Homo sapiens: one gene and its partner. The protein of the gene in region 1 purifies or fractionates together with the protein of each later gene. This does not show direct contact. Each region holds a gene or a part of one and is shown in the gene's direction. Other genes may lie near its edges.

Region 1 (4,031 bases):
TCCCTGAAACCCTAGTACCATTCACAGCAGGATTTCAAAGGTTGCCTGTTGCGTGAGCATTCTATAGGATCCCAAATTATCTTTCTGTGCAAATATGAATTGTTGTGATATGTCCGTAGAGACGGCACAACCTCATGGCTAAGAATGATAGTTACCAGTTCTAGAGATCCTACTCTAATTGCTCTAGAGTGGGGGCCTGAACACCAGTATTACAAAAAAGACAAAAGAAAAAGAAGGAAAAAAGAAAAAAGAAAGAGAGAAAATCAAAGCTACCTTCATCATGTATGAATTTGAGCAAGTAACACCTTTGTGAGTCCCCAGGCCCCAGTTTCTCATTGGTAAAATGAGGATAACAATTACACAGACCTTGTTGGGCTATGTACAGAATTAAATGAGATTATGTACCTAAAAGGCTTGTGGCACAGTGACACACACACACACACACACACACACACACACACCCAGAGTACTTCGTGGTTATTTCTAGGCTTTACTGCTTGAAAGGCTGAAAAGATGGGTGGATGAGAGGTGCCCTGAGGTTCCTTCCAACTCTCCAAGATTCTGTGATACTCCTCCTTGGGTGCTGAAGACACTTTGGCAATGTTTGGATTTCCAAACGGTTGCTTAGAAAACTAAGGGACCCACGAAGCCCAGGTAAGCCTCAGGGTCTTTCCCAGGAATCGTTTATTTATTTGATCTTAGTTCTGACCTAGAGCCTCCACCTTCTCCATCCAAATCACCACAGTGGTCGAAAAGGGCCTGTGCTTGGGAAATCCTTCCTTTGTTGGCGAATCTTGGACCCAAACCCTGCATTTGGGCATCTGACACCCATAGGCCCATGGTTCAAACCCAGGCGGCTCTTTCCAAGTTCGAAGCAGGGACTCGGTTCTGCGCATCTGGCGGGTGTGCCCAGATTGTAACCTTCGCACTAGGCATCCAAGAACGTGCTTTGGACACACTCGGCGGTGGGAGCGGGTGCTTGGTTTGCATCAGGGATGAGGGGTGGAGTAGCGAAAGCGCCCGGAGCGCGCACTCACTCACACTCCCCAAGCCAGGGCGCGGCCGCTCTGGGCGCGAGGTCCCAAGCCAAGTCTCGCGCTCGGCCAGGAGCCGGGGAGTACCCCAGGTCCCCGGTCTGGGGCCGCCGCTATCCTACCCTGCGGCGCGCACTCCTGACCTGGCCCCGCCCCCCGGCGGCCGCGAGTAGCGGGCGGAGCGCAAGCAGAGAGGCGCTCTGGGCTGTGCGGCACCGCCTCTCCTCGGTGTCTGGGGAGGGACGGAGGGACCGGGCGGGAGAGAGAGAAAGCCTGACCGACCGGCTGGCGAAGAGCTGCATGCAACCGGTGGGAGGCCGGGCCGGCTGGGTCTGGGGCTCGGGCTCAGGCTCGCACCGTTTCTCGGCAGGTCCCTGGCGGTGAGCGCGGACGGCCCGGAGGCGGCGGCTCTGAGCTGGCAGGCGGAGGGCTGTCTCCTGCGCCCGCCTGCCCGGCGCGGTCCGAGGATGCGGGGGGGCGATGCCCGGGGCCAGGGACGCGCTCTGTCACCAGGCGCTGCAGCTGCTGGCCGAGCTCTGTGCCCGTGGGGCCCTGGAGCACGACAGCTGCCAGGATTTCATTTACCACCTGCGGGACCGTGCCAGACCCCGGCTCCGCGACCCAGGTGAGTGCCGCCACCGCCGCCTGGAGGGACCTAAGGGCCCTGGGCTGGGACTTGGGGCCGCACCGGGGCCTGAGGCAGAACAGCGACGCGGACTGGGAGAGGGCGGGGGGCGGCCACCGAGCCAGGAGAGTGATCAAGAACCAGCGCACTGTGGCCTGATGCTGTAACCAGGCGGGGACCCGGGCGGTGGCTACTGCACGGAGGCCGACTCCGGGTCGGCTAGGGCAGGGTTGGAGGGACCACGCCCGCCACCTGCGCTCCCATCGCCAAGGCTCCTGGGGGCGGCTCCCTAGCTCCGAGCTACGCTCTCCACTTCCCGGGCTATCTGCACTCAGAGCGAGGGGAGGCCGCGGCGGCCTCGGAGCCGTGGGAAGGGGGACGAGGCCGAAGGAAACTCTGGGAAGTTGGGAGTTGGGGACGGCCCCGGGTTGGGGCCGAATCCCACCGGGTGCTGCTCATCCTTTCTCCCAAGCGTCTAGTTCCTTTCCTTGGTATGGGGTGAGAAGGGCGGGACGCGATCCGGCGTTGGGCCGGGGACAGGGTGCTTCTGGCCTTGGGCAGACGGGCCTGAACCCGTTCCCGGCGGGTCGCACGGCATGGAGGTGGCCTGGGCCTGGGCGCTAGGCTCGACCAGCGACTACCGCCGGCCACGATGGGGTTCGTAGACTCGTCGGTCCTGGCTTGTGCACCTGTAGTTACTCCTAGTGAAAGTTGCAAAGCTCTTAACTTTGGAAAGTTCATTTATTTTGGCATTTGACCAATTAAGGTTGGAGGAGGGAGTTTTAGTGGAGCCATTTGCTTTTCCTGAGGTCCCTGGGTCTCCCAGGTCGTCTCATCCGTTACTGGCTACTGGAAAATGCATTCCTTCCAATGTTTGCTTGAGATGTTTCTCACCTGGAGAAATAGTTTTCTCGAATATTCTCCCAACCTAAGTACTTACCAAAACAGCATATTGTGGTTGGATTGTTAAAAATGGGATGAGAAAATGGCCTTTCTCTTGATATTGCTATGTATAAATATTGGAAATGAGCTATTGCCTTGCAAATTATGATGTACGAATTGAAAACAATTTATTATATAAAAATCCATTTATCCAAAAGATAAATTAAAGAATTATTTGATTTATAAAGAGTGTCACACTGAGCCAGACTTAAATAGCATATCCTTGATATATTCAAGATGGTCGTGTGGGGTGAAGTCATCTGCTAAAATTTTAAAGTTTATATCAGATTTTCCCTACCAGAGGCTTTTTTTTCCTATTGAAAAAGAAAAAAATATTGTTTTCCATTGCCGGTGGTTATATTAACTAAGTTTATTGAATGATCATTGATATATTACTTCAAAGTGGATAATTGGGTAGAGAAATACTGATCCCAGTGGTTTCCAGGGAGGTTTAATGTCCAGCCTATGTGCATCTCATTGCTGGATGTGATGTGCTGAATAAACCACAGTCCCTTATCTCACAAGCTGGAGTCCCAGGAAGATGTCTTAAGTCGGGGAAGTTCGTCCTTAAGCAGCAGAAGCAAGACAATTATTTTGCATGCTTTGCCCAAAGCAAGTATTAGTATTGAAACATCTCACTTCCTTGCCTGTGACCAGACCACGAGTTCTCCTTGTTATCCCACATAAGCAGTTGTCTTTGGCTTTACAAGAGAAGATGGATGAGGCCTATCTCTGAATCACATCTTTTTGGCCAGTTTTCTGCTTCTACTCCTTTTAATCCGGGAGCTGGATCCTGTGTTCTCAGATTCTCTTCAGCCCCTACACCAGGCAACCCCTGAGAAAGAGTCACTAAGTAGGCTTCTTACAAGAGGAAATCTGATTCCTTGGCGGAGGAATAGCTAGAGATAGGAGTCGACCTTGCTGCTCTGAGTTCCTGATAGCAGTGCTCTGCTTTCTTAAACTAGGACACAAGGGTTTTGAAGTAGCCCCATGCCCCTGTGGCTCTTTGGTTTTTGTTGGAAAGTAGCCAGCTCATGAGGACAGGGGTGGGGGTTTTCGAGTGCAAGGTGAGAGGAAATGAGGCCAAAGATTACATCCAAAGTGCACCCTCTCCTTCAGGACACTTCTCCCTTCATTTCCAAATCTCCCTTCATTTCCCTCCTTCCTTGCCTTGCCGACATTAATTCTTACATCAGATGCATTTGTCTTCATCCCTCTGAAGCAAGAGTGTCTTTAATCTCGGAACCCTAAAAGCTGAGTAGTAGAAAAGCTGCACCACACAACGCCGTGTGAATAATGTCCCTGCTGTTGATAGTGTGAACCAGAACAACCATGCACAGCAGCCCTGAGACATGGGTTCCTAGAGAGAGTCATCTCGGTAAATGGATGACTTCTTTTTCTGGAAAGGAATCCACCTGAATGCCATGTCC
Region 2 (3,500 bases), about 40 Mb from region 1:
GAAGTGCAGGTTAGTGCTAGCTAGTTGAGGAGTCTGGTTTGATCCTGATCCACCCTGGAGGGATCCTGAGAGTGACTTCAATTTTTGTTACAATGACTGAGTCCAGATTAGATGGCCTAGGTCTGTTTTTCAGAAACAGAGCCCCAGGCGTTAAGCTGGAAATTAAGTCATTGGTAGGGATAGGTAGGTGAACCATTATTTATCTACATTTTTTTTTTTTTCTTGAGACGGAGTCTCACTCTGTCACCCAGGCTCGAGTGCAGTGGTGCGATCTCAGCTCACCACAGCCTCCACCTCCTGGGTTCAAGCGATTCTCATGCCTCAGACTCCCGAGTAGCTGGGATTACAGATGTGTGCCACCACACCCGGCTAATTTTTTTGTATTTTTAGTAGAGATGGGGTTTTGCCATGTTGGCCAGCTGGTCTCAAACTCCTGACCTCAGGTGATCCGCCTCGGCCTCCCAGAGTTCTGGGATTACAGGCGTGAGCCACCATGCCTGGCCTATCTATTTTTTAACATTCGATTCTGTGAGCTCATGAGCCTAGACACGAGGCTAGGCAAGCGTCAAGTTCTCCTATCATTAGTATGAAAGTGGAAGACCTTCTGACCTCTGCCTCTGGCCGGGAAGAAGTTGAGAGGGATGAGTCCCTTAGGCACAGCAGTGGATCTTATCAGTACTTTTTTTCCTATTAGACTTCGATTTTCAGAATTCCTCCTGGGAATGCTGACTCCTTGCTTGGTGCCCTGATGCTTCTCTGAGATAAACTGATGAATTGGAACCATGGTGCAAAAGAAGAAGTTCTGTCCTCGGTTACTTGACTATCTAGTGATCGTAGGGGCCAGGTAACCAAGAAGAGATTGACTTTTGTCTTAATATCTGGGATAGCCATAAAATCTGCAGTTGTTCCCTTCTCCGATTTCCATGTTGCTTTGCATAGCTCATCTTCTCCTGTTATTTTACCCTGATGGGAGCATCGAAGCCAGTAGGGAAAAAACAAAATCAGGTGGATTGAAAGCAAAACCCTGCTCTTAACTAACATCTTCTTGATGTCGAGCAAATATACTCTTTATACCTCAGTTTTCTTATTTTGTAAAAAGAAAAAGTACATTATAAGCTACTCCTCTATGTATACTTTTTTGGTAATTTATTAGTTAATTCACTTTAAAAGATGTTAATCATCTTAAGGTGCCAGTGATAATTTTATTGTCAAAATCTCCCCTTCGTTTCAGAATAGATGCCTTCATGACAGTGTAGACTTCACTTAGGTTACCAGCTCCATGCGGCAGGCAGCACCCATATTTTCCAAGGTGTTACAGTCAGGTTACTTTATCCAAAATAGCATCTTGAGCTTTATTTGTTGACTGTGGTTAAAATTTGATAGCCCATTCCATCCCTTCAGGCTGCTGAATTTGTCTTTATGTTCTTCAGGCACCCGAGCAGTGATAGCGTGGCCCAGACTCCTGAATTGCTACGGCGATACCCCTTGGAGGATCACACTGAGTTTCCCCTGCCCCCAGATGTAGTGTTCTTCTGCCAGCCCGAGGGCTGCCTGAGCGTGCGGCAGCGGCGCATGAGCCTTCGGGATGATACCTCTTTTGTCTTCACCCTCACTGACAAGGACACTGGAGTCACGCGATATGGCATCTGTGTTAACTTCTACCGCTCCTTCCAAAAGCGAATCTCTAAGGAGAAGGGGGAAGGTGGGGCAGGGTCCCGTGGGAAGGAAGGAACCCATGCCACCTGTGCCTCAGAAGAGGGTGGCACTGAGAGCTCAGAGAGTGGCTCATCCCTGCAGCCTCTCAGTGCTGACTCTACCCCTGATGTGAACCAGTCTCCTCGGGGCAAACGCCGGGCCAAGGCGGGGAGCCGCTCCCGCAACAGTACTCTCACGTCCCTGTGCGTGCTCAGCCACTACCCTTTCTTCTCCACCTTCCGAGAGTGTTTGTATACTCTCAAGCGCCTGGTGGACTGCTGTAGTGAGCGCCTTCTGGGCAAGAAACTGGGCATCCCTCGAGGCGTACAAAGGTACAGTTTGCTGCTGATGCCTAATGGGGGAAGCATTTAGAGATTCCATGTAATTGGTCTTTGAGGGGCATAGGAAATTTCCTCTACAGCTCAAGGTCCTTCAGACCTATTAAGCATATTTAGAGTATTTAGAGTTAATCTTTTTTCTTTTGGAGACAGTCTCGCTCTGTTGCCCAGGCTGGAGTACAGTGGTGCGATCTCGGCTCACTGCAACCCCTGCCTCCTGGGTTCAAGTGATCCTTCTGCCTCAGCCTCCCGAGTAGCTGGGATTACAGGTGCACGCCACCATGACCAGCTAATTTTGGTATTTTTGTAGAGACAAGGTTTCGCCATGTTGGCCAGGCTGGTCTCAAACTCCTCACCTCAGGTGGTCCACCCACGTTGGCCTCCCAAAGTGCTGGGATTATAGGCGTGAGCATCATCCCCAGCCAAGAGTTAATCTTTACTAAGCAAAAGACTGCTGCAGAGTTAGACCTCTTTCCAAAATTGTGTTTGGAGTAATGCTGGAATTTGGTGTTTTAACTGTGGTTAGGACAGTAAGTCTTACCCAGTATATATCTTTACATTTGCTTTTGCCATTGTATATACTTTCCGGTCCTATCTGAGCTCAGAGACTGGGCTTTCTTAATGATGCTCCGTTTCCCATTGTCATCATTAGAGCCTCTGTGGTGATACTGAGTTGCAGTAGGGTATCAGCTTCTGATGCTAATGTGTCTGATTCCTGCTGTCTGCTTCTCAGGGACACCATGTGGCGGATCTTTACTGGATCGCTGCTGGTAGAGGAGAAGTCAAGTGCCCTTCTGCATGACCTTCGAGAGATTGAGGCCTGGATCTATCGATTGCTGCGCTCCCCAGTACCCGTCTCTGGGCAGAAGCGAGTAGACATCGAGGTCCTACCCCAAGAGCTCCAGCCAGCTCTGACCTTTGCTCTTCCAGACCCATCTCGATTCACCCTAGTGGATTTCCCACTGCACCTTCCCTTGGAACTTCTAGGTGTGGACGCCTGTCTCCAGGTGCTAACCTGCATTCTGTTAGAGCACAAGGTGAGAGGCAAGCTTCCTAGACCTTTCTAGGGGAGAAACTCTTAAATATGCCAGTGGCCAGACCACGAGCTCTTAGAGGACAGGGACTACATATTTTTCACCTTTTTGTCTTCAGGAGGTAACATGATGCCTGGTAAACAGCAGGTGTTCCGTAGATGTGGGTTGAATTAAGATACTGGTATCATGTGGGATGTATTTAGAGGGTTTACCATTCATTAGGGCTTATCCTTAATTGTACTGACCTAATTCTTTGGAAATATCAGTAGTTCTGTTTCAGTGAGTGGTCCTGGGATGGGCAGTACAAGAACTAGGAAGGTAAGGGAGTGATTTGCATATCTCAGGTGACTGAGGATCACCATTGTGCCTGGATTGGGAGGTGGCAGGCATGGTGGGGCAGGGGGCAGTGGGAGAGACAAAGCTGGAGCTGTAG

The links. The genes of interacting proteins can lie anywhere in the genome.
Region 2: the proteins of SYT9 (region 1) and MADD purify together in Homo sapiens (affinity purification with mass spectrometry; one large-scale study listed by BioGRID and IntAct). This does not show direct contact.

The regions. Positions count from the first base shown.
Region 1 is NC_000011.10:7,250,673-7,254,703, forward strand, and holds the start of SYT9 (synaptotagmin-9), read left to right. Parts: upstream 1-1,231; 5' UTR 1,232-1,514; coding exon 1,515-1,659; intron 1,660-4,031. UniProt on the Homo sapiens protein: May be involved in Ca(2+)-dependent exocytosis of secretory vesicles through Ca(2+) and phospholipid binding to the C2 domain or may serve as Ca(2+) sensors in the process of vesicular trafficking and exocytosis.
Region 2 is NC_000011.10:47,273,133-47,276,632, forward strand, and holds part of MADD (MAP kinase-activating death domain protein), read left to right. Parts: intron 1-694; 5' UTR 695-782; coding exon 783-844; intron 845-1,430; coding exon 1,431-2,027; intron 2,028-2,766; coding exon 2,767-3,070; intron 3,071-3,500. UniProt on the Homo sapiens protein: Guanyl-nucleotide exchange factor that regulates small GTPases of the Rab family. Converts GDP-bound inactive form of RAB27A and RAB27B to the GTP-bound active forms.